3 separate regions of the Homo sapiens genome follow, and all the other regions are linked to region 1. The links come from fine-mapping of genetic effects on gene expression. A gene starts in region 1. Each other region holds a variant in brackets. All regions are shown on one strand. Distances are between the middles of the regions. Region 1 holds the start of AP1AR (adaptor related protein complex 1 associated regulatory protein). Region 2 has its middle 4.9 kb from the start of FAM241A. Region 3 overlaps AP1AR (adaptor related protein complex 1 associated regulatory protein).

Evidence for each region. PIP is the estimated chance that this variant, and not a neighbour inherited with it, causes the effect.
Region 2: its variant is fine-mapped to the expression of AP1AR in whole blood (INTERVAL, PIP 0.95).
Region 3: its variant is fine-mapped to the expression of AP1AR in whole blood (TOPMed, PIP above 0.99).

The regions. Positions count from the first base shown.
Region 1 is chr4:112,226,961-112,235,148 of GRCh38, reverse strand. It overlaps AP1AR (adaptor related protein complex 1 associated regulatory protein), which reads right to left and starts at 3,362. Exons shown (of 10, transcript NM_018569.6): 1 at 2,975-3,362. The coding sequence starts at 3,057. It overlaps AP1AR-DT (AP1AR divergent transcript), which reads left to right and starts at 2,999. Exons shown (of 1, transcript NR_186684.1): 1 at 2,999-5,588. RefSeq lists silencers at 1-34, 2,828-3,097, 3,258-3,537 and enhancers at 2,568-2,617, 2,642-3,589.
Region 2 is chr4:112,136,436-112,144,623 of GRCh38, reverse strand. No RefSeq gene overlaps it. Among named protein-coding and RNA genes, the nearest start is that of FAM241A, 4.9 kb to the left of the region's middle. The variant A/G (reference allele first, on the strand shown) is at 4,226.
Region 3 is chr4:112,260,157-112,268,344 of GRCh38, reverse strand. It overlaps AP1AR (adaptor related protein complex 1 associated regulatory protein), which reads right to left. Exons shown (of 10, transcript NM_018569.6): 5 at 7,483-7,579; 6 at 5,259-5,357; 7 at 3,278-3,336; 8 at 2,538-2,611; 9 at 1,629-1,757; 10 at 1-201. Among named protein-coding and RNA genes, the nearest start is that of TIFA, 22 kb to the left of the region's middle. The variant G/A (reference allele first, on the strand shown) is at 3,303.

The DNA.
Region 1 (8,188 bases):
GGATGCCTAAGTTTTATTCCTTAAAGATATTTAATTCTCTCTGCTTTAATCACCAAATGACTTCATTAGTAGTAGGGTTTCCAACATACGTCAACACTGATATTGATATTTTGACTGGTGAAACAGATATCCTAGAATATACAATACTAGAATTCCCTAGTATTTTATAAACTGGAAAAAGTGGTAATTCTGGTTTTGAGATTAAAATAGTAAAAAACGAGTGATCTGATTTTCAGATTTCTCAGGGGTATGTCAATCTGCAAGACTCAGAAACCAGGCCTTAGATCATAAGGCTTCCCTGTGAAGTCTAGCTTAAATCAAGCTAAAAAAGTTGAGGACACCCTCTTCTTTTGTGGTCACTACAAAGACATATAGGATCAAATCAAGTTTTTGTGATTACTCCTCAACTTTTTCACCTTTAGAAGAACTACTAACTATCCAGACCTATACTTGAAAGAAAATCAAAACAGCTGATAAAAAAAAAAAAAAACTAAAATAAGAGTTTAACCTTATTGCACAAGTAACTATATCCATCTGTCTCTACATGCTTACTGGAAGCTGCTAAAACAGTATTAAAATTGATGTTAAACAATAAGTTAATCAGAAAATTCAAGTAAGGGAACCGTCAAATCCTGTTTATAGACTTAAAGTAATAGGATCAATATCACCATTATATAATTTTAGATGACAGTGTCCACAACCTATAAACTCTCACTGCCTCCACAGGACTTGTTCAAAGAGCTTTGCCCACAAACAGTAAAAATCCAACCACAAGTTGAGTATACCTAACCCCAAAACCCAAAATCTGAAATGTTCCAAAATCTGAAACTTTTTGAGTGCCAACATGTTACTCAAAGAAAATGTTCATTGGAGAATTCTGGATTTCAGATTTTCAGATACTACACCAGTATATAATGCATATATTCCAAAATCTGAATAAAAATCTGAACTCCAAAGCAAGTATTTCAGATAAGAAATACTCAACCTGCTGGCCGGGCGCGGTGGCTCATGCCTGTAATCCCAGCACTTTGGGAGGCCAAGGCTGGCGAATCATGAGGTCAGGAGATCAAGACCATTCTGGCTAACAGGGTGAAACCCGGTCTCTACTAAAAATACAAAAAAATTAGCCGGGCATGGTGGCGGGCGCCTGCAGTCCCAGCTACTCAGGAGGCTGAGGCAGGAGAATGGCGTGAACCCGGGAGGCGAAGGTTGCAGTGAGCCGAGATCGCGCGCCACTGCACTCCAGCCTGGGCGACAGAGCGAGACTCCGTCTCAAAAAAAAAGAAAGAAATACTCCACCTGCTTATGTTTTTATGGCATATCTACAGACAATTAACACTCACGCTGATTCATGGATTTCCTCCTGCCACCTCCCTGTGCTGCCAAGCTCACGAGCTGAGGGAGTAGAACCTACAATTTTAATGCCGTACTCTACGGAGACCCCATGAAAAAAACAAAACTAAAGTCCACAGACACATCATGTAGTCCAAAGTCAAATATAAAGTTTTTTGCTTATCCATTTAGAATGTAAGTACTGCTCCCTCACCAACCAACTTTCTTGGAGTTAGAATTTAACGCCCTGTAACACAACTACAAATAATAGTAAAAGCCAAAGATTGTGTGGCATCTAGTTATTGGGCAAGCCTACTTAAGCAGCTTGACCTTGTAAGTTTCATTCACACACAAAAATTATAAATACTTAAACCAGATGATCCTGGATGACAAGATAAAACAACTGTCATGTCCCACTCAAGAGTAATAACTCATAAATTAGGGAAATCGAAATATTACACTAGGCACAAACTGCAAATCCTTGCCCTTCCATTCTAGGGATACTTAGTGTAAAACCTTAGCTATTTTGTATCAGAGAGGTGACACAATGCCTAATTAATGAATGAGAATCCTATATTTTATAAGATCTCCATTACCAAAGATTCAAATTATGATCATTTACTGCAATTTATTTATGTTGAACATCTTATTACCCAATAATGTTAGTTAAATGGAACAGATTATGAAAAATTAGCAATCTGTTTCAGAAAGTGCAAAACAGTCTTAGTCCTTACACAAACTGGCTTGGTTCAGATTTTCAATTCTAGGTTTGAATTCCGGAGGGACATTTAATAACAACAAAGCCAACCCCAAAGGAATTTGCTCTAATTTTTTCAATATATATGAAATAAAAAAACACAAAAACGGAATTATGAAATTACTATTCTGTGGATGGTGCATATACAAAACCTAAGCAATATCCCAGGTTTACTCAAGAGAAGTGAAGTTCAGAAGGACTGCAATTTACCTAATGTTACAGGACGTTTGAGTAGCAATCAGGGCAAGGAATTCCTCTCGAAATTTCAAAAACTTAATACGAAAAAATTACACATTGTCCCTGTAGTTATGAGCACCAAGAATCTGAATGCCCATTGGGAACTCTGCAATTCAGCAAGTCTTTGTAGCTACCAGAGTTCATCAGTATCTGGAACCTTATTTTACTCCAGCATCCAAATGACTTCTACTTAAAATCAATCTGAGGCATTAACTCCGGAGCCAGATCCCACCTGCTCTGCCAGGGCTAAAGAGAGGGTCAGATACAGGGATACTAGCTTTGGCGTTAAACCTAAGCTCAGCGCAGGGTGTGTCCAGGTTGCCGTGGAGCCGGTCCTACAGCCCATTAGCGCGAAGCTACCCCTTGTTTCCTGGAGATGATGTCTCCCGTGACTCCTTCCCCGCGTGACAGGGCGCCCTGGCAGGAGGGACACCCCGCCCCCTCTTCTACCTCTTTCCGAGGAGGCCCCAAGACCGGACCCCAGACTGGGCCTCCAAGACGACCACCAGTCTGACGTCTGCTAAGCAGTGAGTGTAGCAGGGCTCTCGACCGCCACCTCCAGCCGCCGGGGGACGGTGAAAGGGATTCCCCGCCGGGGGCCGAAGAGGAGGAGCCACGGGGGCCGGGCCCCTCCCCCAGCGGGCTTACCCTCCGCCGCCGCCTACTCGCTGCAGCCGCCCCGCTTCCTTGCGAAGCAGTCCGAAGCACTGCGTCCAGCAGCAGTTCCCCATCGCATGCCGCCCAGGCGCCGCCGCTCCTCCTCCTCCTCCCGCTCAATGCCCAAACCCAGGCCCGGCAGCTGCATCCGCACGGCACGAGCCGAAATGGGGTTCAAGGACCGAGGGCGGGCCGGCCAGAGCCCGGCGGCGTGAGGGCACGGGGCGACGAAAGACGAGGCGCTAGGGAACAAAGGCAGTGTTTACTCCAGCGGCCGCAGAGCCACCGCTGCGCGAGGGAGGAGCACCGGGCTCAAGGCTCTGGACTCCCTCGCCGTCCGCATGGCCCTTCTCGCCTCAGCTCCTAGCCCAGCGTGAGTGACCGCCTCCAGCTGCCGAAGGAGGCCAGTCCCCGCGAGCCGAGCACCCTGGCCCCGCCCCCAGCGCGCCCAGGCCCCTGCTCGCCGCCAACGCTGCCACACCCCCGGCCTCTCCCGCGCCCCAATTGGGCGCGCTACCTCGGTGCCCCGCCTTCTCTGGCGACCGGCCTGTGCGTCACTTCCGCTCGCTCCTGGTTCAGCCGCCTCTGCCTGCGAGACGGTTCAATTCCTGCGTGCGGACGTTTGTTTTGTTGGACCTTGACCTGACTAGGAAATTTCCCTCTCTCATTGCAGTTTCGGGCATCCTCGTCCGGAGCACGCTGGGCGTGGCATGGCTAAGGCTCAGCCTTCGAACTTTGTATCAAAGGCGTGTGAGGAGCCAGAGTCCCAGGCCGGAAGTCATAAGTGCGAAGGGGCGTTTCTCTGCACGGTGTGCTTAGTTTTTGTTAATACTGCACCATAAGCGGAAAATAGACTCGGGAACTGATTGAGGTTACTTTGAACGCACCAAGATTTTTTTCCGGTCTCTGGTTTGTGTCTTAATTTCCATACTGTTAATGTTTTAGGGAAACGTAATAATGGTGCATTATTGTCCTCGTTTTGTTTGAAAATCAGATCTTCACATAATTTTGGGTTGGGTAGTTGGGGTTCAGAGGAAATTGGCAAGAGGGCTGGGGTTTTTCGGGGACGTCAGCGTTGCCATTCCAAGCATGCTGCCCAGAACTGCTGTAGATGGGAAGAGAAAGCTGCTCTAATGTGTCCGCAGCCCTCTCAAGTGCTACCATATAATTCGCGTCTTGTTTGGCCTCAAGACAGTTGGCCTCACAATAGATATAAGATGTGGTTTAGTAGACACCTCGTCCAGTGGATAGGAGGATGCTCTCATGGACTGGACACATCAAGTTTTTAGCCTGTTTAATTAAACCTAGAAAAATTGTTACATTTTAGAAAGTTTTTATTGATGATAAAATGTTCTCTGAACTCATTTTCTTGCTTCTTTAAATACGTATCTGGTTTCAATCTTAGCACTGCTACTTACTAATGTTTATTTTATTTGGGTTTTAGTTGTTTTGTAATCAGAAGCATAGGATAACATTTGTCCCAATGGTTTGCTTTCAGTGAATGTTGGGATGACCGAATGACTTCCTAGTGAAAGCATTTTCTTTTCTCCTTCCAACCCCTGAAATTAGACAAATGTATTAATGAAATAATCATTAAAATTCAACTATAAATGTTTACAGAAACTGGTACATCTATCCTATGGAATATTTAGTAACAAATAGGAACACAGTATTGATGAACACACCCTGAAATGAATCTGTAGGAAATTATGGTTAAAGAAAAAGCCAATCTCAAATGCTTATATACTGTGTAATTCCATTATGTAACATCTCAGAATTGATAAATTTATGTAAGTGGACAACAGAATAATTGATTGCCATGGGTCAGGGAATGGAAATCCTGCATCTTGTCTATATTAATGTCAGTATTCTGGTTGTGATATTGCAATAGTTTTGTAACATGTCACCACTGGGGGAAACTAGATTAAAGATATACACGGTCATCTGTATATTATTTCTTAAAACTGCATGTGACACAATTGTCTCAATATAAAAAGTTTGATTAAAAAAATGCAGCTATAGACTTGACAGCACTTCCTATAGACATTCTATAAACCGTTATTAAAACTGAATCTCACTTAAAAATAATTTTTTTATAGTAAATCTGTTCTCTCAGTTAAGGATATGAATGATCCTCAGAAGCAATACAAATGAATAAGACATTTAAAAACTTCACTAAGCAAAATAATGCAAATTAAAATGCATGTTTTAGTCATTTGTATTGATTCACTTGTCAAGTTAACAAAGCTTTACAGTTAGAAATATTCAGTATTTGCAAGGATACAATGAAATGGTACTATTCTAAACTGCTGCAGATAATGAAACTCATTCTGAGAAATTATTTGGAAATACCAAGAGCCAGAAACAAACTAAATGCTCAAAAATTGAAGGATGATTAAATTTGCTGGTGTATTCTTGTTATATAGACATAATAAATATATTTTTTAAAACAATATGGAAAAATGCTTGCTGAATAATGTGTGAAAAATCAGGATAGAAAATTATATGTATGTTCCAAATGATGTTTAAAACAAAACATATACATTCTTACATTCTTTCTTACACGTGTTTCTTGAAAATAAAGGCTGGATGGTAAATATCAAAATGCTAACAGTAATTATTTCAAGACTGTGAATGTTGGGAGCTTTATTTCTCTTCTCTATTTTCTCAATTTTGACAATTATTATTTAATACTTCTGTAATCAGAAAAAAATGTTTAAATCTGACCCTTCAGTAGAAAAGGTTGATAACCAGTTCAATTAGAGTTTGATCACAAATGCAAGCATTTAGAAATGCAGAATTTTGCCCCGCAGTTCAGCTAAAACCAGGTTCTTGTCACATGACAAGGAAAACTTAGACACGTGGACACATTGAAGGGTGAGTAGAGCAGGATTTTATTGGGCAAAAGGAAAAAGAAAAAACTCACCAAAGCGAGATAGAGTCCTGTTATCAGGCCCCCACCTCATAGACTGAATCCCAGGCTACTGCACAGGGACTGAAAAGGCACCTCACAGATTGAATCCCAAGCCACCACATAGGAACTGAAGAGGCCAGCCTCCTTCCCCTGCCCTGGTTCCACCCCATTCCCCCAGTGCGCATATGGGCATGTTCACACAAGGCACTGGGCAGGTTCCCTCATCTGCACAAAAGCATCTGATGTGAACACTTGTGGGGCAGGTGGGAGATTTTTCTGGGGACCCCTTTTTGTCTGCCTAGGCATTTGGCTGTCTCCGAAAGTAATGATAACTTGAATATGGGTAGATTATAATAAATTCAGGGGAGCTACTTAATTTTTTTTCTACAAATGTATTAAATAAATTACCAAGCTAATCTTAGAGGTTATTGGAATTTATCATTGTGCAATTTTTCACCAAATTTGACATCAAGAATCTTCATGGTAAGTTTTAAGACTTTTTAAACATTCAGTTAAGTGATGATCTGCTTTTAGTTAAACAGAATTAGCAGGGAAAAAACCCGTAACTGGAATGGATGTTTGAGAGGCAGATAAACTTCATTTTATGGTTGAGAAAGAGTAGTCTTTGAGGAATTAAATGATTTGCTCAAGGTCATACAATGAATTAAAAGTATAATATGAAGAAATCTCAGGCCTCCTGACAGACTTGTGCCTTCTGCCATGCTTCAGTACTGCTTCCTCGACTCTTACATTTGGACATGGGTATAAAATCAGTAACGACCATAGTCACATGTATTCTGATAAGATTTATAAGTTTAATTCATCATTGCTAGAGAGTTCATTTAGAGCTGGGTGTGGTGGCACGTAACTGTAGTCCCAGCTACTCAGAAGGTGGAGGTAGGAGGATGGTTTGAGCCCAGGAGTTTGCGTTCAGCCTGGGGAACATAGCAAGACCTCATCATTTCAAAAAGTTCATTTATATGACAGTTGGCTACGCAGAATATTTAACTTGTCAGTAAGATACACAAACACTTAGATTATCTACAGTGGGACCAAGCACAGTGGCTTACGCCTGTAATCCCAGAATTTTCGGAGGCTGAGGTGGGCAGATGGCTTGAGTCCAGGAGTTCGAGACCAGCCTTGGCAACATGGCAAGAGCCTGTCTCTACAAAAAATAGGTGTGGCGGCATGTGCCTGTATTCTCAGCTACTCAGGAGGCTGAGGTGGGAGAATTGCTTGAGCTCAGAAAGTCAAGGCTGCAATGAGCCGAGATCTAACCACTGCCCTCCAGCCTGGGTGACAAGCCAGACCTTGTCTCAAAAAAGAAAGACTATCTACAGTGATTACTGTCAGCTTGCTAGAGACATCCCACCTGCTTACAGGTAGCAGAACTTCTCACCTTCTTCCCCATCCTTTTCAAAATTCTCTTGGGTACTAGGCTTAATACCTGGGTGACGAAATAATCTGCACAACAAATCCCTGTGATATGAGTTTATCCATATAACGAACCTGCACATGTATTCCTGAACCTAAAATACAAGTTAAAAAAAACCCCGGCCGGGCGCGGTGGCTCACGCCTGTAATCCCAGCACTTTGGGAGGCCGAGGCGGGTGGATCACGAGGTCAGGAGATCGAGACCATCCTGGCTAACAAGGTGAAACCCCGTCTCTACTAAAAATACAAAAAATTAGCCGGGCGCGGTGGCAGGCGCCTGTAGTCCCAGCTACTTGGGAGGCTGAGGCAGGAGAATGGCGTGAACCCGGGAAGCAGAGCTTGCAGTGAGCCGAGATTGCGCCACTGCGGTCCGCAGTCCGGCCTGGGCGACAGAGCGAGACTCCGTCTCAAAAAAAAAAAAAAAAAAAAAAAAAAAAACCCACAACATTTTCTTCTCTCAAGTATTTTATTCTGAAGTTGAAGGGAATGATCTTTTCTCGTAGGTGCTCCGAAGTCCGTCAGGATGCAACGTGTACCCCTAATTGTCTTCTGGATTATGTGGTTCCATATCTGAATCTCTGCTCAGAACTTCTTCTCTATTGACTGCTAATCACTTTTTGTCATTTTGAGATCATTTGCTACTATTATGTTTGGTGTGGAGGTTATGTGTGGTGTGGAGGTTATGTGGTCCCTGCAAAGGGAAGAATTCTGTGTTTTCCATTACGACATTGTTCCAAATATGGACACAAAGTCGTACTTTTAACTCACTGAGCGTAGTTTCGATTACCAAAATTTATACAGAGTACTAGATATGACTACTATAAAATGGAGATAATGAGATAAATTTTGCCTTCGTT
Region 2 (8,188 bases), 91 kb after region 1:
TTAGTGTGTGTGGGTTTGTATGTGAGAGAGAAACACACACATGCACCCAGTTACACTCTCCAGCAGAGTACCCCTGTTCTTGCCTGAGTATCTGCCCGTCCTTTTCAAGGAAGACACATTTCACTGTCCCTCTTGTTCCTTTAGCCTCCTTTCCTAGTGTCTCACTGAAGGTCTGTGTATTTGTCCCTTTCTGTTGAGTGCTTCCTAGTGTGTGTTGTTTGTTGGAGCCTTGGGTCGTTTGATGGTGTATCAAATGATGTATCTTTCTGTAACTGGGTAAGAATATGTCTTTCTCAGTGGGTGGTGAGGGGAATATATCCAATTGATAATTATTTTTTGTACTACTCCATCCATTTTATTCAAGGAAAATGGAAGGGTGTTTAAATAAAATATCACTTTTTTTTCTGTGTATGCCTTATCTGTACATTGGGAAAACGATGGGTTATTGTACAGGTAAAATACAGAAAAGTAAATATGGAAAGTAAACATGTGTACACATGGAGAAGAGTAAGAGTTATTTGGGATCTTCTATTAAAATGTTTTCAGGCCCAGAGAAGGAATTAAAATAGGCAGAATCTCATAGGCTTATTTTAAAGAAGTTTCCTGTTTTTTGTAGTCAGGAGATTCTCAGTCTTTCTCACACACCCACAATCTCTCATACACACAATCTCTCTCATACACACATGATTTCACATACATACAGTCTCTCTCACACATATACAACCTCGCGCACACACCATCTCTCACACATGGTTTCTCACACATGCCCTCTCTGATTGTCTCTCCTCCACAAACAATCTCTCTAGGGGCCAGAAAATATGCCGTTGGATATCAAAAATTAGAAAGAAAATGAATCTGGTTCATTCCCTTTCTTAAAAGTCTTTAAAACTCCAGAAAAGAGTATTTAATATTATATACATACAATCAGAAACAAATATCACCATGGGAACCCAGTAGCCTTTCTGATGGGCCTCATTTTTTTTCCCCTGAAGGCAACATTTTCATTCTTGGAATTTTGGTTTGGCTATTAGTAGTGTTTCTTATAAAAACCAACTTTTTTTTTTTTTGGCTGGGCGTGGTGGCTCACGCCTGTAATCCCAGCACTTTGGGAGGCCGAGGCAGGCGAATCACAAGGTCAAGAGATGGAGACCATCCTGGCCAACATGGTGAAACCCCATCTCTACTACAAATACAAAAACTAGCTGGGTGTGGTGGCACATGCCTGTAGTCCCAGCTACTAGGGAGGCTGAGGCAGGAGAATCAGTTGAACCCGGGAGGCAGAGGTTGCAGTGAGCCAAGATCACGCCACTACACTCCAGCCTGGTGACAGAGCAAGACTCCGTCTCAAAAAAATAAAAAAATAAAAATCAACTTTTTTGGATAAAACTTTGGAATTATATACAGCAACCCAGAGAACATCAGCTCTTTACTGCCAACCCCATGAACTAAGGCACATTTTGAAGTTCTCCCTCATAGCGTTTGATTGGCAACTTGATAAGCCAAACAACTATGCACTCTTCAATCAGGCTACAGTGAGCAGAAATTCCTTATATATAAGAGGACTCAGAAGGCACAGAGTATTTATATAGCTGGGCAGGTACAATACAGAGGTTAGCTTTGTTCAGCTTAGGGGACAAGTCTTACAAAATTCCTTTAGAGTATACTGTCTGGTCTTTTGTAGATTCCGGCTTCTTGAGTCTTTGAGAAGTGTATTAATTCAGTTTTTTAGTAGGTATTTATTGAACGCTACTAGGCTTTAGGCCCAGGTCTAGGTCCCTATTCTCTTATTGAACACTACTAGGCGTTTGGCCCAGGTCTAGGTCCCTATTCTCATGAAGCTTCATTTTAATCCAATTCTTGTGTTATTTTCTTGGCAGAAACCAAGAACTTTTACCGAAGAGTAGCCAGAATCCTTGGATCTCCACCTAGGACTGAAGGCAGAACCTTTTTTTTTTTTCTTAATATCATTTACCTTTAATTTAGTGAGTGAGTTTTTCTTTAAGCTGTTATTCTTTTGTTCATAGAGTCTGATTTTTCCTGGAGATCTGGAGAACCACCTCTTTAAATAAATCTAGCATTTTACACAAAAGACATTAAACAGATTACAGCCTAATCTTATGGGAGGAGAGGGCTGTTTTCACTCTGCTGCACAATGTGAAAAATATACACATAAAGCTAGCACTGCCAGTTTCCCATGGGAAATATAAGATTGTTATTACCTAGGCAACTATAACATGTTGGTCTCAAATCATATGTAGTGGTTTTTTTTTTTGTTTGTGTGTGTGTGTGTGTGTGTGTGTGTTTTGGCAGAGTGTCGCTCTTCCACCCAGGCTGCAGTGCAGTAGCATGATCACAGCTTACTGCAACCTCCACCTCCCAGGCTCAGGCGATCCTCCTGCCCTGCCTCAGCTCTCTAAGTAGCTGGGACTGCAGGTGTGTGCCACCATGCCAGGCTAATTTTTGTATCTTTGTAAAGATGGGATTTTGCCATGTTAGCCAGGCTGGTCTCGAACTCCTGCGCTCAGGTGATCCGCCTACCTTGGCCTCCCAAAGTCAAATCATATGGAGTTTTGTTGTGATTTTATTAGTGTGTTTTGTGCTTTCCCAGAAATAAATAAGTGCAAGAAACAGATGCACGTCTAAGGAATGGCCTGTCTAGTGCAAATGTGGCTGGTGCAGTTGCTATGGGAACAAGGACTTTTAATCCTTCACTTTCATGCCTTTATTATTTTTAATGTTCCTCTATTCTTATTTCATTTGTGCATCTTTCCAGAGGGAGAAACGAGCAAATCAGAGAGTTCTGGACTCAATTGGTAATACAATCTTAGAAAAACAAATGCAGTTATTTGTGGAAACTACCCCAAATTACATTTGTTGGTTTGATTTTTGACACACTATAATGTTATTCTAAGCTTCCTATATGCTTTAATTTTTCTCATATGATTTTCATCTGCTTCCTTTCTATTTAGCAGGGCACAGGGAATTATTTTTGAGATGTTTGGAATCTGAACCAAAATTCCAGGAAACTATGGTTCTTGCACAATTGATGTAAATTTCAAGGAAAGGAAACTTGGAGAGGCCTCACTTCCTTTAGTGTTCTTTCAGTTTAAGGAAGCTGTATCAGCTTAAACAACGCTCTATTAATGCTCTCTTGCCTTCCCAGAGAGTCCATTCTGATTGGGAGAAGGAGAAATTTGCTCTTTCTGTTGGAATTAATTTTTGTTTTATTTTTTGAGACAGAGTCTTGCTCTGCCACTCAGGCTGGAGTGCAGTAGTGTAATCTCGGATCACTGCAAACTCCACCTCCTGGGTTCAACCGATTCTCCTGCCTCAGACCCCCGAGTAGCTGGGATTACAGGCGTGTGCCACCACACCAGCTAATTTTTGTGTTTTTAGTAGAGACGGGGTTTCACCATGCTGGCCACGCTGGTCTCAAACTCCTGACCTCAGGTGATCCGCCCGCCTCAGCCTCCCAAAGTGCTGGGATTACAGGTGTGAGCCACTATGCCTGGGTTGGAATTAATTTTTATCCTCTCTGCTCTATTAACGTTCTCTAGTGTGATTTTGTTGCATTCAGATGCACTGCTGAGTTCTCTCCTTACAGTAGGAAGATAGATTAACAGTTGTTTTATTAAAAAAAAAAAGTATTGAGAAGGCTATTTAAACTTATTGCTAGAGAAAAAAGTGGAAATATAGACAATAATTAAGCACTATTTAATATCTGTTAGTAATTTTTAAAATGTCGAATAAAACCTAATGTGAGCAATATTTTAGAGAAATGGTTAAACTCAGGCATTGCTAGTAGCTCTGAAAACTGATAGCATTCTTTTGGCAGTACATACTCAGAACCACAGAGATATCCGTACCCTTTGGCCTACTAACTCCAGTCCTGGGAAAGAATTAAAAAAGGGGTGGGGTGGGGGACAGAGAGATGTTGTCCCAAGGGTACAAAGTTTCAGTTAGACAGGAAGAGTAACTTTTTGAGATCTATTGCACAGCATAGTGACCATAGTTAATAATAATGCATATTTCAAAACTGCTAAAAGGGTAGATTTTAAATGTTCTTACCATAAAAAAAAGATATGTGAGCTGATGGGTAACTTTATTATCTAGATATAATCTTTCCACAATGTACACATATATCGAAACATCACATTGAACCTTGTAAATGTGTACAATTATTATTTAAAATAAAAGTAAAAATTAAAAAACAAAAAGGGGAAAA[A/G]GTTGTTTGCATAAAGATGTTCAAGGCAGAATTATAGTGAAAAGCTGAAAGTAGCCTAAATGTCTTCCTGTAAGAAAACACCTAAGTAAACTGTGGTATACCAACACAAATATGTAAAGCCTTAAAATGGTAAAGATTTTATATCAATGTGATAAACATTTAAATATAATGTTAAGTGAAAAAGTGAAGATTGGTAGTAACAGAGTCACTCAGTTATCCTGTACCCCAGGAGCTAGGCAGGTAAAAAGAGTAATTCAGGACTTAGCTTCTCAGCTTAGGAAATAAGTCTCACAGAGGTGAAATTATGTGAACAAAAAGATCAAATTTGGAAGATAAAATTTTAAAATGGCTTTTTGGACAATGTGACTCTGGGGTATGTGTTTCCTTGTAAAATTAATTTTAATGTTGTAATTTAAAAATAAACCATTTAAAAAGATCTATATCTGTTTTTCTTGTAAAATGGGATTGCTGGCACCCAAAGTCTGGTTGATTCAACTTCATAGATGAAAGTTATATTACCTTTTGTTGAATTATTTAGTTCTTGAATGAGTTTGGATCTTTTATTCATGTTGTTCTCAATAATTTAGAATCTTAGAGTTGGAAGGAATCTCAGAGGCAGTTTATAGCAAGCTATCACCCAATGTAGGATCCCTTCTATAACATTTCTGGTAGATGGTCACCCTTCTTCTGCTTGAAGGCCTCCAACTATGGGAAACTCATTACTTCATGATACTGCCTATTCAATTACCAAATAACTAATACTAATTGTTAGAAAGTTTATTGCATCTCCTGACTTGAATCTATATCCTTATCTCCTCTGCCTCTTGGTCCTAATTCATTTCTGAAGTACAAAAGAACGAATTAATTATTATTATTATTATTTTTGGTGACAGTCCTTTCAATTTTTTATTTTTTTATTTTTTATTTTTTAGAGACAGAGTCTAGTTGTGTTGCTCAGGCTAGAGTGCAGTGGTACCATCTCGGCTCACTGCAACCTCCGCCTCCCTAGTTCAAGCGATTCTCCTGCCTCAGCCTCCCGAGTAGCTGAGACTACAGGCGCCCACCACCACGCCCAGCTAATTTTTGTATTTTTAGTCGAGATGGGGTTTCACTGTGTTGGCCAGGCTGGTATTGAACTCCTGACCTCGTGATCCGCCTGCCTCAGCCTCCCAAAGTGCTGGGATTACAGGCGTGAGCCACCATGCCTGGCCTCAAACTTTTTTTAAAAGTGATTTTGTCTTCTCTTATACTTTATTCTTTTTACTGTTATTTATGGATAAATGTTGGGTTTTGCTATTGTTATCTGTACCTACTTTTTTCTTTTAGGCAAAGCACATTTATTATTCACAGATGAGCAGTAAGGTGTACCTACTCCTTTGTTAACAATACCCCAGCTTTTCTTATTGACCAGTCTCCCACTCCCAGTCTGTGATTGGAATGGAGAATATGGCTTTTACTAAGTAAATTAAATTCATTTTACTCTCCCCACCTCCCATGGCCACTGTGATTGGTTCAAGAATAGGCACAAGTCAGGCCAATCAGGGCCAATAAAACTCAATTTGGGGACTTTTGTTTGTATTATAAGAAAAGTATTGTCTACAGGATTGGCCTGTGATGGTATGAGCTTGGAACTGCAGGAGGACAACCATATAGGGCATAAGAATGAAGTCAGCCCAGCAGAATACATGATTGAGAGATGAATATTTTTAGCTAGCTACTCCAAATATTAGAGCTACACCTGTATGCTTTTCTCAGTTATGTTAACCCATAAATCTATCACCATAATGTTGTCCCCAATTTTTTTCCATAAGCCATGTTGAGTTAGCTCTTCATCACTTACTAAAGGAATCAGAATGATATAAACTCTAAACTGGGATACAGGAGAAATGGCTAGTTCTGCCACTCTCAGGCTGCAGAAATTTGTGCAGTTTATTTAAAATTTCTGCTATTGAATTTCATAGTGAGTAAAATGAGCAGGCTGAACCAGACAATTTGAAAAATCTCTCTCTCCTTTAAAATTCTATGATTTCAGCCTGGGGCGGTGGCTCACGCCTGTAATCTCAGCACTTTGGGAGGCCGAGGCGGGCAGATCATGAGGTCAGGAGATCGAGACCATCCTGGCTAGCACAGTGAAACCCTGTCTCTACTAAAAATGCAAAAAAATTAGCCGGGCGTGGTGATGCACGCCTGTAGTCCCAGCTACTCGGGAGGCTGAGGCAGGAGAATGGCGTGAACCCGGGAGGCGGAGCTTGCAGTGAGCGGAGATCGCACCGTGGCACTCCAGGCTGGGCGACAGAGCAAGACTCCATCTCAAAAAAAAAAAAAAAAAAAAAGAAAGAAAAGAAAAAAAAATCTATGATTTCTATCTGACTTTTCTTCTAGATCTAACCTGAGTGCCTTGGCTGCTGTTCTTTTCATTTATTCCAATTAGTCAAGTTGTTCTGATTGGAGATACTAATTCTCAAAAGTGAAAGGATAGAAGGAATTTTTCTTATGCTGTGTCTTAATCATCATAATTAAATTATCTAAGGTTATTTTTGCCAACACCTCCCCAAAGATCTTTAAAATGTTTTGATATACATATAAGTTGTCCTATTATAATTCCAAGGTATCTATTATTTTAACACTCTGCAATGAGAAAAACCCTCTTTACTCAGTGAAAATTAGGTCTATTACATTTTTGCCTCCACATTTTTATTCTGAAAAAATTCACACCTTAAGAAAGGTTGCAATAGTACAGTGAACATTCACAGGGTGTTCACCTGGAATGTCCAGTTGTTAATATTTTTTCTAAATTTGCTGTCCTGTATGTGTTTTCCTGGCTAAGCCTATTACTCTCACTGAGTTGTTTTTAAGTTGAAATAGGGTCTCACTCTGTCACTCAGGCTGGAGTGCAGCAGTGCAATCTCAGCTCACTGCAACCTCTGCCTCCCAGGCTCAAGCAATTCTCATGCCTCAGCTTCTTGAGTACTTGGGACTACAGGCAGGTGCCACCATGCCCAGCTAATTGTTTGTACTTTCGATGGAGATGGAGTCTCACTATGTCGTCCAGGCTGGTCTCCAACTCTTGAGCTCAAGCTATCTGCCTGCCTTAGCCTCCCAAAGTGCTGAAATTTTAGGCGTGAGCCCCCACACCTGACCTTCAATGAGTTTTTAAAAATGGTATATATGAAGAGAATCAAGAAATTCTGGAAGGAATGCTGCACTTCTCCAGGATCTGGAGAAGTAAGGTGGAACACTCTAGCAGTTAACAATTCTAAAACTTGAGCCTTGACTGCCGCTAGATTCCAATCCTGGCTCTTTCTAATCCTCAGTTTTTTTATTTGCAAAATAACGGGTATTATGGCATCTAAGTTTATACTCAAAACATATTAGTTAGCATTAATATTACGTGAATGGAGCTGATAGCATGAGGTATGCTTAGCTTTTTCATTGCATATGGGAAATCTGTTATCTATGCTCTGCAAATGAGCTTGGATCTTGGGTTTCCTCACATGGTAAATAACTTAGTGGTTGACTTAAAAGGGAATGCAAAAAGCTGAAACAGAAATTAAAGAATTCTGTATGTATCTCCAGCTGGGCAAGAAATCAGACCCCAAATAGTATCTGCCAATACGGTACTAGCAGATGTAAGCCTAGATACGGAGAGGCAGATGGGTTTCATCTCACGTTCCAGTTACTGGTAGCAACTGCGTGGCACACTGTATTTTCACAAGAAGGCTTGTGAAAATTTACTGGGAAAGAATGACTGCTATGGAATAGGAGATATGAGTGATGGCACAGTGTCATGTTGCTGTGGCCTGAATGTGTCCTCTAAAATTCGTGAAACTTTTGGCCAATGTGACAGTGTTAAGAGGTAGGGCCTTTAGGAAGTGATTAAGTCATGAGGGCAGAGCTCTTGTGGATGAGATTAGGCTCTTATAAAAGGGCTTGAGGGAGTGGATTTCTTCTCTTCCGCTCTTC
Region 3 (8,188 bases), 33 kb before region 1:
TTACAAATCCAGAATACTCGGAATTTCCATTATCATCCATTTCGGCACTAACAAAATCATTTTCCCACTCCAGCCCATTGGAATCATCAGAGGCTGATGTAGGATTACTTCCAGTCTTCTTGTTGCTATACTTAAGTGCTGCCCGTAGAATGTCTTCCTCTGTTTTGGAACGTTCTCTCATTGGAAGCATTCTATTCATTCCTATGATTTGAACAGAGTTTTCAAAAATCTCAGAACAGATAATAAAGCTATATTTAAAAACTCCCAAATTTAGCAATGTAGTTTTTATTTAACTATCAGACTTGATGTGTGAATTAACTTAAAGACCCAGTCCCATGGAGGCCTTCTTAAGGGAAATTGTTGGGTTCTAACCCTGAAGTATGCCTCAGATAAAAATAAATATTAACAGTCACCAAAGGGCAGTTTTGATGCATCGATTATCCGATAAGATGAAATTCCTGAAGACTCATAAATAAAACAGAATGGATGGAGGATTTCAACTGCTGTTAGTCTCATATAGCCAAGTTAGTATGTCTGCCAAAGTCTTTTCCTACCCACATAATTTCATTTCCCAGAGAATGACAATCACTCTAATGATAACATGTACTTTTCCAGCATTTACTAGGTTCCAGTTAATGTGACATATATGCCACAGATATGAACTGATTTAATCCCCAACAACTCTATGGAGTACAGTACTATCATTATTCTCATTCTATAGCTGAGGTAACCGGGACAGAAAGGCTAAGTGATTTGGGTAAGGTCACACAGCTAAAAAGTGGTGAAGCAAGAATTTTAATCCATTCAGTCTGGCTCCAAAGTCTGTGGTATTATGCTCTTCTGACTCTACCACAACAGAGTAGAGACATTTCTATGGGAAACTGTTCTAGATCTAATTCTGAACAAAATGAAATTGGTAAAGTGAAAGTGTCAATAATCTTGAAAGGAAAAAATAATGTCATTTTACTGGCAGAAGGAAGGGAGACAGGACAGAAAAGAAATTTGAATCTGTAAGTACAGAATCAACATTGGTAACAGAATTAAAATCTAGGATTCACAAAGAGATTGTAATATTCCCAGACACATTTAATGATTTTCTTTTTTGACCTTAAAGCTCAGATCCCACCATAAAAGAACATTTAAATCTGTATCACCGTTGTCTGTCACTCCTGAAAAATCACAAAGACTCAACCCAGTAAAACAAGTTATTTCTATAGATAAGAAAAAAATATGAGCTAGATACTAATATAACTTTGTAGATCTGTATCTGGTGGATTTGTTTCTGTGGATTTATTTCTAAGAGAAGTTATATTTAACTTCTGGCTTTGGACTGTCCACAAGGGGGTAGTAATCCTTCATACTGAGTAATGTCATGGGCTTGGATTACAAAAACCTTAAAGAAATCGACATTTATTTTCTAAATCTAAAGAAACATTAAAAATTAAGCAATTTTCTAAAAATTTTTATCAACAGAGATCATCACCAATACAATAATGGTCTAAAAAGTGTTTATATGATTTTTCAAGGCCTTGAATTTATTTCCATTTAAATAAAGACCAAGGTAGATTTACATAAATCAACACAGATTACGTTAAATTTTTCAGGTAAAATTGTGAATTATAAAATACCTTCTTCATCTTCCCACTCTAGATCTAAGGATGTGCTGTCGTCATTTCCACTAGTTGATTTAGTTTTGGTCATTAAATCACAACTGCTTTCTGTATTTGGTGTCAAAACTGTAGCATCTGATGAGAGTCCTAGAATATACACGAAATACAATTGAATACTCTCATCTACTCTTCCACCGCAACAGCCGTTTTATTTTGTAACAATTATCTGTCTCTAAATATTATTATTATTACTTTTAGCTTCATAAGAAATAATTCTGGAAATCATTTTATTGGTAAGTTTCTGTTAGGAACAGTATAAAGAAACTTTTCTCTCTTTTTTTTTGCCATCTAAGCATAGCAAACATGCAAATATAAATGATTATAAACTTTTCAAATATGATTAACTCTAGATAATATTTTTAACAGTCAATTACAAAGCGGCACAAAAAACAATGAACAAGAAAGATAAAACAAAAAGCAACCTATATTTTCAAAAGGAACCACTACCATACTATGCTTCCAGTATTGGGAAGCATAAGAGTTTTTGCTTTTGAAACCTGAGGAAATATTTTAATCTTATAAGTCAATCTGTAATAAGTAAAAAATAAGTACACTTTTCTATTACTTCCTCCCACCTTTCCTTTCTTTTTTTTGGAAAGGGAAGGGTTAGGATCAGAGTAGAAATGGAAAAAGGAGTGCTTGACTTCCTATATGGATCTACAGAAATAGTCTGAGATTTTTCTTTGCTCCAACTTCTTTTTAAAAAGAAAAGATGAGGTTGTATAATTAATGACTACCTAGGAAATTGACCTATCTGGGAATTACAAATTTAAGAACAGAAAGTTCTTCTACAGAAACAGAGCCAGAATCTCTACTTATCTGTTTACTGTGGCATAAAAAGTACAGAAAATACTTTAAAAAACTTACTACTACTTCGAAAAACTTCATACTGTGACTTCATATTTCTCAAACAAGATTCGAAGTCATCTTCTGGTCCTGAACTGTAATAAAAGTGAAATAATTTTTTAATATATTCATGGTAGCTGCAATATGACAAATATATAAGCTAATGATGGCATTGTGGCTTGAAGACCTATGTCATACAAATTCATAACTGCTGTACAATTAGAATAACCTAATGAAAATAGTTCTTAATTTTCTTAATACTAAAATGAAACTGAAAATAAGAAGATTTTCATTAATCCTGAAGTCCAATCTCCAAAGCTTAGCCATAAGTCCAACTTTACAATAATGAATCATGAACAATATTCTTTGAATGAGTAGTGATACTTGTGGAAATGTGACACTGAAATATCTCTTCCAAAAAATGACCACACATAAACTTTATTATAAGAAAGAGAGGGACTAAGGAAAACACAAACAACTGGGGTATAAACAACTCACCCAAAGGCATTCAGCTATTGTATCACATCTATATGGGAAATGAGACCACTCTTAAAAATGCAATAAAGTCAGTTTAAATTAATAATAATGTTTCAACTTAAATGTTCTCAGTTTTCTTCCAAGACAATGTCTTTTAGAAGGAATAATTTTTAGGGAACACATAAACATGAATGCGTATATACACATCTTGAGGTGAATGATGCTCTACACCGCAATAAAATGTTCTACCACAAAGGGAAGGAGGCATATGTTTCACTATTTACCTTTGATATTCTCCATTGTTGGAAG[G/A]ATGATATTGCTGCACAATTCTCTGCCTTTCTTGCTTTGGAAACATAATGTAATAAAAAAAATCACTCTGTTGTAAAATTATATATTTTAAAACCACTCATGCAACACCAAAAAGTATTTTTTTCTAGTTTCTAAAAAAAAAAGTTATTTTGTTGATATATTTTTCCTTAAATCCATCACTATTCAATTCTATATCCCCTTATTTATGGGAAGAATTTTTCTGAATTTATCTATGTGTAATCCAGAAGTGGCCAGAATATTCATAGTGTTATTAAAAAATAACTTTTTTTTAACAGATATGTATTGATATCCTTAACATTCTTAGTATACCCAAGAACTTCCAACCAACTGGAAAAATGAGGAGCAGGAAAGGAATAGTTAAAACAATACATGAAGTTCCATTCTGGGTGAAATAAGTAGCAATACAACAACAGATTTATAAGATCTGGCTGAGTTGACTCAGAAATAATAAAAGCAATTGGCTAAGATTTAGAAGAACTGTTGGGAGTTGTGGCTCTGATAGCTATTAGCTATATATCCCTGGCATGGCCTTTACCTACTGTTCCTTCACCTATAAATTACAGATAGCTATATTACTGCTCTAGCAAACTCAGGGTTCCCATGAAAATCAAATGACTTGGTGGGTGTCAGTGTATGTCTGTGTGTCAGTATGTGCTGTATAGACTGTAATGTGTTCCTACATCAAATATTTAAACCAGGGTAGGAAAAACTCAGAGAATCCTGGAAATCACCCATATGGATGCTGCATATGGAATGCTTTGTCTTTAAAAGGGAAGCAGTAGATAATCTATTACAGTAAAAAGTGTCTATATGATAACCAGAAAAATACTTTTCTTAGTAGAAGGTAAAAGTTAAAAACTTGTTCATTATTTAGAACTGACTTAAAAAGAAAATATATTCCTTCATATAATCTGCTAAAACAGCAGAGAGAGAGAGGGAAAAAAATGAAGGAAAGTTGGGGGGAGAAGGACACAGTTCACATAGAAATCATGTAACAATATGATAGACATGATATTTCAGTTTCTCTAAGTTTTACAATGTGACATGATCTTTATACTACTTCAGTTAACACTACAGAGGTGAATCCAAACAGGCAAAATATGGAGGAAGATATTAAGGATACCAGCTAAGCACTGTTGTGCTTGAACTTTGGCTCTGGCCCTTATTAACTGTAGGATCTCAAGCAAGTTACAAAACATATCCTACTCTCAGTTTTCTCATTTGTAAAACAGGGATTAAAAACACTATCTCATAAGATTGTTGTGAGGATTAAATAAGGTAAAACATTGCTGCTCCTGACAGTTAGGGTTCCATAAATGCCTGTTACTTACAGCTGCCAGGCATTATGGTAATGCAGCATGGTAAGATACGGTAAATCTGCTGCCTTCTCTGATAATATTCCAACGATTTCTCAAGACCCAAACTCCCAATCTCCCAAGGACACAAGAATAAAGATGAGAAGCAAGTAATAATTTTATGGGGAAAATAGCACAGTTTATCCAGTTCCAGGAAAAAAAGAAATTCTAGCAATTTAAAAAACTGTTAAAAAAAAAAAAACCCTCACAAAACAAAATGCTTTGCCAATTATATTTAAAGGCTAGTTTTGCAACGCTTTCCCTCTAAGAGTACATTTAATTTTTCCAAAAGAATACTGAATTTTATAGCACTAAAATTTATCTTTAGGATAAACAGGAATCAGCATTTGCTAATCTAAAGCTAAATAGCATTGAGTATCAAGCATGTAATCTGATGTTATTTCTAGCTGTTAATGACTGACTAATTTGCCTTGAAAATTCTTAAGAATATATGGGTAAACACATTCGTTGTTAAACAAGAAGTCCTTGAGAATAGGAAAAAAAGAGTCCCAACTAAGATTTGTCAGAGAAAATAAGGAGAAAAGCAACCCTAATATATGCTGGGGTCTTTTCCCCTCACCTCCAAGAGCTTTCGCTGCTTTGCTGCCCTGGCTGCTTCACGCTGTGCAGCGTATAAAGCTTCTTCTTCTAGTCTTAACTTCTCTTCTTGTAAGGCTAACTGTACATGAACAAAACGATAAGGATTAACAAAAATCAGAACCTGTCTAACTGCTCTAAAAATAAAATGCTTCTATTTATAAAACAAAAAATAAATTATTAAAAAATAATTGATCTCTACAAAGCATAACAGAATTGAAATGTTTGCAATTGTTTAAATTTTTTCTTTTACAAAATAACCCAAAGGATATAAAACACATTACGGAATTCCTTAGAAACTGAGTTATGAAGCAGTAGCATCTATTCTGTATAAATATAGAAGTGTTTCTTTAGAATCTGCAGTGATCTTCATTTTAAACAATCATTCCAACACCTATCACCCTCACTAGTTTGCCGGTTTTGGCCCTCATAAATCCAGTATCTTTAAGATCAATTACGTCACTGTGACCAAAGTGAACTCAGCTTTCACAAAATTCATGTCTTGCCATCTAATTAACATCAATGCACATGTCTCCTTAATTTCATTACTATCAAACTATTAAAAAATTACTTTCAAATGTAAGTTCTTGCTATTCATAAGAGCACATAAGCTGCTTTAGTAATATCTATTGTATGTTAAAGTTAACTTGAAAATCAAATTTCAACACAAATTTTTTTCTTTAGACTAATATTAACAGCTACTGTATAGCTTACGTTAATGCTTTTGAAATCACTAATTGGTCCTAAACATACTTTTCTTTTTGAGACAGGGTGTTATTCTGTCACCCAGCCTGCAGTACCATGGCACCAACACTGCAGCCTTGACCTCCTGGGCTCAAACCATTCTCCCACCTCAGCCTCCAGAGTAGCTGGGACTACAGGCGTGCGCCACCACCCCGGGTGAATTTTTGTATTTCTTGCAGAGATGAGGTCTTGCCAAGTTGCCCAGGCTGGTTCTTAACTCCTGGACTTGAGCAATCTGCCTGTCTTGGCCTCCAAAGTGCTGGGACTATAGGCATTAGCCACCATACCCACATTAAACAGACAAATATATGTATATGTATGTATGTATATGTGTGTGTGCATTTATTTTTTTTTTTTGAGACAGGGTCTTGCTCTGTCACCCAGGCTGGAGTCTAGTGGCTCCCCTTCGACCTCCCATAGTCTTGAGGATCCTGGGCTCAAAATCTTCCCACCTCAGCCTCCTTAGTAGCTGGGACTATAGGTGCATGCTACCATACCCGGCTAATTTTTGTATTTTTTTTTAGAGATGGGTTTTCACCATGTTGCCCAGGCTGGTCTCAAATTCCTGGGCTTAAGTGATCTGTCCACCTCAGTCTCCCAAAGTGCTGGAACTACAGGTCTCCCAAAGTGCTGGAACTATGACCACCAAGCCCGGTCTTAAACAGAAAAATTTTAAATGTGCAGCAGAATATGAATAATTCCATTTAGTTTAGTGGGTGCAAAACCATAATTATAGGCCATTTCAATAAACACATTAAATAACTTTAACACTTATGATTATAAGTACTTGGTTCTCTGAGAACAAATACACCAAGATAAAAACTCTTCAAAAAACCACTTATTGTGAAACAGGGTAATTTTTTAAAAATTTGCTTTTGTTGTTGTTTCCTTTTTGAGACAGGGTCTCACTCTACTGCCCAGGCTGGAGTGCAGTGGCATGATCTTGGCTCACTGCAGCCTTGACCTCTCTGGCTCAAGCAATACTCCCACCTCAGCCTCCCAAATAGCTGGGACCACAGGCATGCACCACCATACCAAGCTAATTTTGTATTTTTTGTAGAGACGGGGTTTTGCCATGTTGCTGAGGCTGGTCTCAACCTCTTGGGCTCAAGCAATCTGTCTGCCTCGGCCACCCAATGTGCTGGGATTACAGATGTGAGCCTGCTCTAAAAGTTGGTTTTAAATACCAAGGTGCATATTCTTGCCAGAGTTCCTACTTTGTGAATTAAGAAATTATTTTTAAAAGAATGTACTATCTCCATTTTTTGGCAGCATATGATTTCTGATAAATTAAGCCAAACTAAAAGAAATTATAATAGGCTGGAATGATTTTTTTTAACTCTTAAAACAGATTCATCTGTATATATCTAAATATAGGTCCAAAGACTCTACACAATATATTATTTAATGACAATTCTCTCTTTATGATAACATGTACTTAAGCAATATAAAAGACAATTTACCTCTTTTTGAATTTTCTTATCAAGATCTTTTTGTTTTTCGGCAATGGAATCATAATGCCTTTCTCTTAGGTCAACAATTTCTTCCTCAGTAAGAGGCCTAGAGAAAAAAAGGAGGAGGAGAAAAAGAAAAAACAAAAACTTCTGATGAGTCTAAGTCCAAATAAAACACTCAAAAAGCCAGTGAAATTCTCAAATTTTGCTGTTAAAAATGTTAAAGCAATTTGCTACAACTTCAATTGTTAAGAGTAAAAAGTATACATTCTAACACTTGCTATTATTCTAGTATATAAACTGGTAAGATGATACAATATCAGAATAGTTTTTAAAGCATTACAGCTACCTTTTAAGAAATGTGGATTTTATTTACCTTCATCTGGCTCTGCTTCAGCCATCTGACCTATGGGTATATACCCCAAACCATATCCCAAGATGCTCATCATAAAATATAAACATCAGTACACTATTACACCCTGATCTCAGCCGTCATACCATTCTGGAACTCTTCTTAATCCTCCTATTTTATCCTGCTTAATCACTCTGGCTTCCCCAGGCCCTTCATCCTTCCCTTTTCTCAGTCTATCTGTCCCAGTCATCTTCTGGCCTTGCTTCACTTACAACCAATATGGACACCAAGGCAGATCTGAACTACTTTCTTACCAACATACTCACCTTCTTACACTCCTATCATTATTCCATATTCACTTGG